2 separate regions of the Homo sapiens genome follow, and region 2 is linked to region 1. Evidence: fine-mapped expression QTL. A gene starts in region 1. The other region holds a variant in brackets. All regions are shown on one strand. Distances are between the middles of the regions.

Region 1 (2,500 bases):
GATCATTTATAGAATACAAGATAAAATGGCCTAAGAAAAAAATGGCTTAAAGGGTTAAATCGAGTTTCTTATAAAACCTGCCTATTTGGCATGTTGTGTTGAGTATGTTGACCATGCTCAATAAATATTGAAAAAAATGATTTTAGCTTCTAAGATGAAAAATATAGAGGGAAAAATCCTTCACAGAAATATGCAATCTTAGAATTGAACAGGGCATTGGAGAAAACCTGGTCCAAACTTCTGGCTTGAGAGATGAGAAAACTAAGGTCAGGGAAGGTAACTGGTTTTCCTAAGGTCCCAGTATTGGTAGACAATGAAATCATGCACTTACTGCTTCCTGTTGGAAGCTAAAATAAGACAAAGATTGTACCTACCCCATGTCCAAAATAACGAACCTTCAATCAAATAAGTTCAATAACTAATTAATTCAGTTGAAAAAAAAGTAGTCATCTACTTGTTAGACAGAATTGAAAGTTTAAACATGTGAAAGCATTTAGTTAAATGGCTTATACCGCTACACATAGGAAATTAAATTTCCTGAGTATATGAGTAGATTGTGGTGTGGTTTTTCAAGAAAGCAGTACATAGCAATTTATTACACTTAGCTATTTATGAATACAATGTCCTTAAGCACAGATAATCCACATTGATGGATAAACCAAAAGATTGGATAATCAAGGAATCAGTACTAAAGGGCACTAAAAGGCCATCTCATTGAGTATTTTCACTTAAATGTGAGTAACTTTGACTGCTCTGGGAAATCACTATAAAAAGTAATATAACTAACTGTAAAAATGTCTTCTTTTTAAAGCAATACCTTCTTTGAAGTAAAATCAATATCCAACCAGGTGTGGAAGTTCCAGCGATATCAGCTGATTATGACATTTCATGACAGGCCAGTCCTGCCCCCACCGATGATCATTTTAAGCCACATCTACATCATCATTATGCGTCTCAGCGGCCGCTGCAGGAAAAAGAGAGAAGGGGACCAAGAGGAACGGGATCGTGGATTGAGTATGTGCAGGGCTCTTCATTTCTAAGTTGGGCTGATTTCAAAATAGTGTTCAAATTGGACATCCTCACAGAAATCTCACTCAACTACTTGCTCGTGTGAAAAGCACCACACTCAGTCCAACTGCTGTTCTTTTCAAAAGGCTTCTCATTTTGTACCCATTTTATTCTAGTTTCGTTAATTTGTTAGTAATTAATATTAGGAAAGCCAGCTCATAGAGACCAGAAGTTGAGCTAATTCTCTAAAATAACTCTACTCTGTAAATTTCTATATAAATTCAATGCTCCTTTCAAAACGTCTTAATTTGTTGCATCTAAAGAAAATGAGAAAATAATGCTATACGTTTGACTCTATTCATAAAAATAAGTGCAAAAAGTTTTCCAGGAAATATTACTTGGCTTTACTTTCCCAGTAAATGTAATTTTGTTTTTTATGTTTAAAAGCGGGCCGTTTGGCTCCAACTGATAGAGGGTTGGGGCGTATGACAACCCCTTTTTAGATAAAAATCAATTGGAGTAGTGGCGAACTGCCTTAGGAGTGGCGGAGAAGAGAGCTTAATTAAAGTGGGGCTGTGAAATTCTCATTGACGCCACGAAACTGATTCTTCTTGTTTTTCACGTGGCCGACACTTCTCCCTTCACACAGAGCTCTTCCTTAGCGACGAGGAGCTAAAGAGGCTGCATGAGTTCGAGGAGCAGTGCGTGCAGGAGCACTTCCGGGAGAAGGAGGATGAGCAGCAGTCGTCCAGCGACGAGCGCATCCGGGTCACTTCTGAAAGGTACGTGTAGCGTCCCCACCGCGGGCCCGTGAGCCAAGGGTTTGCTGACTCGGGCGCCCCACTCTATGGGGGATGCCAGAGTTCATTTAAACATGCACTCCGAGTTCTCCTGTTTTATTTAAACTTTAGGTTTTAACGTGGTTCCCACGAAATAGTGAGAAAGTTACTAGGTAATAACTGTGCATTGGATATAGAAGGGAATGACATTTATTTATCCTGGGCCGAAAGAAAACCTAACAGTTGACTACCTTCACCCCCTACCCCAAAGTGGGGGTGTTTCCGCAAGGTTAATGGAAGCTACAGAAAGCCATCCTTCTCCCAGCTCTTGTTCCTAACTTCCCTTTGCGAGCATGGTCCTCCCCAGGGGACTGCCCTCCTCATCCGGCCTAGCTGCTTGCTGCACCTTGGCAACACCTTTCCCAGCCTCACAGGGCAGAGGAAAAGGCTCCCTCCTGGGGCTCCCCTGAGAGTGGGAACTGGGAGGGGTGGGGTGCAGGGTGGGGGGTGAGGTGTCTGGCCCCATGAGGGTGGGATCCGCTAAACTAGGGCAGGGTGTGTCTTTCAGACACCTTCACATCCGCAGTACCCAGCAAGGTCAGCCTAATCTCCGCGGTGATGCTTAATAAATGCAGAGTGAATGAATGCAGGATGTGTGAACCAGTGAATGAGTAAATGAAGTCAGGTCGCGAGGTACAGAAATGGTGACATTT
Region 2 (2,500 bases), 76 kb before region 1:
TCAGTATCCACCCTTCACGGTGGTGTTCTTGTGTCCTCAGACGGCTCCACAGACACATAATGATTCTCAGACCTTACAGCGTCTCTCCACAGTCCTCACACACTGTGTCCATGCACCAGGTCATCCAAGTGACTTCATGGGGGAGGATGCCTCTGGAGAGTGGACAGTCTGGTGAGAACCCCTTTTCCCCACAGCTGCAGCTCAACACCGCCCAACAGAAATACAAGGTGAGCCATAGCTGTGAGCCACAGAGCAGAGGCAATTTTAAATTTTCTTTTTTTTTTCTTTTTCTTTCTTTCTCTCTTTTTTTTTTTTTTTGGATACAGAGTCTCACTCTGTCACCCAGGCTGGAGTGCAGTGGTGTGATCTCAGCTCACTGCAACTTCCGCCTCCAGGGTTCAAGTGATTCTCCTGCCTCAGCCTCCCGAGTAGCTGGGATTACAGGCACCCACCACCATGGCCGGTTATTTTTTATATTTTTAGTAGAGATGAGGTTTCACCATGTTGGCCAGGCTGGTCTCGAACTCCTGACCTCAGGTGATCCACCTGCCTCAGCCTCCCAAAGTGCTGGAATTGCAGGCGTGAGCTGGGCCAATTTAAAATTTTCTAGTAGTCAGTTTTGAAAAGTAAATAGAAGCAGGTGAAAAAAATTAATAACATTCTATTCAACCCAACATGTTCTAAATATTTCAATGTGCAATCGATTATTATCACAAGTCTTGGCAATCCCGTGTATATTTTACATTCGGAGCATATCTCAATTCTGACTGGCTCTGTTTCCAGCACTCCATAGCCACGCGTGGCCTGTGGCCACTGTGTGAGACATCTCAGCTCCCAGTTGCAGGCCACACTGCATGGACCCTGGGGAGGAGGGGTGTTCTCTTGGGGAAGGATGGGGCTCCCATTGTTTCCATCTTATCTGAACCTGAAAAAGAGCTTATTTGTCTAGTGAAGGGCCCACTGCCTGGAGAGCCACTGACTGGCAGCCGGTCGGGCTGGCCATTGGTGCTGACCACAGAGCCTCCACACCTCCCAGCCATGGCAGTGCCGGCCATCAGCTCACTTCCCCATGTGGTCTTTCCCCACTGCTCCCAGACTGATTTCAGATGCCCCGGATTGCCCTGACTGTGCCTTCAGAATTCCGGCCACGTAGCACCCTCCCTCAGCCCCCGGAAGGGTTCCCGCTGAAGCCGTGACTCTCTCAGGCCTCAGGAGCCAACACCAGTTCAAGAAAGAAGACTCGGGAGCCAGGCCAGGGAGGCTGCTGCGGTCATTGTGCGCCCAGGGGCTGTGCGCGCTCCAGCAAAGCACGTGGGAGCCACTCACCAGACCCTTTGCACGCCCACTCTGCGGTGACAGACCCTGAGAGAAACGAATGAAAGCAAAGACAGACCCAGAAAATGGCCTGGCACATGTGCTTCCGTCAGAAGTTCAGAGATTCCCTGAGCCCCAGGCTGTCTGCCAGG[C/A]ATTGGGTGGGGGAGTGAGCCCAGCCTCCAGCTTCAGGACTCTACATATGGGCAGAACTTGACAACCTGGGCACTCCCACTCCACCCCACCTGCTCTCTGGGCAAGCCACCCTCTCACATGACTCAGAGTCCTCATCTGTAAAATGGGAACACCCCTAATTGCCCTTACGTCCAATCTGTCTGCTCCTCTGTGAGAAGCGGGAGGCGGACAATGCCCAAGAGCCTCAGATGCTGGGGAAGACCCAGCCCCTCTGCAGAGAGGGATAGTTCAGGGTTTGGGTTTTTTCTTTCCTCCTGGGCTGAGAAAGCTCATGGAAAGCTGGAATAACCACGCATACTGTTACAGCAAATCCAACAGAGCTCCCACCGTGGTGGTTTTCAGGTGACTGTGGATGCCAAGCAGGCAAGCTCCTGGTGAAGGGGGGAGAGCAGGGATTAGAAGCACTCAGAAGGGGCTGAGAGTCATGTGGGGCTCACACTGCATTTGCAGCTGGGTTCACCCTGACCTCAGGCCCAACTTAGATGAGGAAGGATTAGCAGTAATTAGTGCCATGTGCCGCCTTCTCCCAGCTCCCCGGGGCACGAACACTGCCCAGCTGATGAGGGGATTCTGAAAGAACCATTATGTCCAATTGTCTCAATTATGCAAACCCTGCTGACATTTCCAGCCAGGGAAGGGCGGCTGGGTGGGAGGGGGCCATGGCGGGGCCACTTCAAAGGAAAAGCTCTAGCTCCCCTACCTCTCTCACATCCTAAGGCTGCCTTTGTGGGATTCCACACAGAACAGCCTGGAAGCTTGGGGCCCTGGCTTCCTTTTCTGGCCTGGGAGTCAGGTCATGGGGCCATCGCTTCACAGCAATCATGAGGGCCCAGGCCCAAGTGCTCACATGCTCCTCATGGGGACTGCTCCTCTTAAAGGGTGGGCCCTCCTCACCCAGCTCCCTGCCCTGGCCAAGGAGGAGGCTGAAAGAGCCTGAGCTGTGCCCTCTCCATTCCACTGCTGTGGCAGGTAAGCTCAGATGCGGGTAAGCACA

Alleles and levels. Alleles are on the strand shown, and positions count from the first base shown. SD is a standard deviation of normalised expression in the study named.
For the expression in substantia nigra of the gene that starts at base 1,057 in region 1, C is the high allele of the variant in region 2 and A is the other (moderate effect, 0.48 SD a copy in GTEx).

The links. PIP is the estimated chance that this variant, and not a neighbour inherited with it, causes the effect.
Region 2: its variant is the best candidate, but not a certain one, in a credible set for the expression of TRPM1-AS1 in substantia nigra (GTEx, PIP 0.65).

Annotation. Positions count from the first base shown.
Region 1 is chr15:31,025,429-31,027,928 of GRCh38, reverse strand. TRPM1-AS1 (TRPM1 antisense RNA 1) reads right to left here and starts at 1,057. Exons shown (of 5, transcript XR_932056.2): 1 at 818-1,057. TRPM1 (transient receptor potential cation channel subfamily M member 1) reads left to right here. Exons shown (of 28, transcript NM_001252024.2): 26 at 812-1,014; 27 at 1,658-1,790. RefSeq lists an enhancer at 849-2,048.
Region 2 is chr15:31,101,632-31,104,131 of GRCh38, reverse strand. It overlaps TRPM1 (transient receptor potential cation channel subfamily M member 1), which reads left to right and starts at 2,407. Exons shown (of 28, transcript NM_001252024.2): 1 at 2,407-2,475. The variant C/A (reference allele first, on the strand shown) is at 1,467.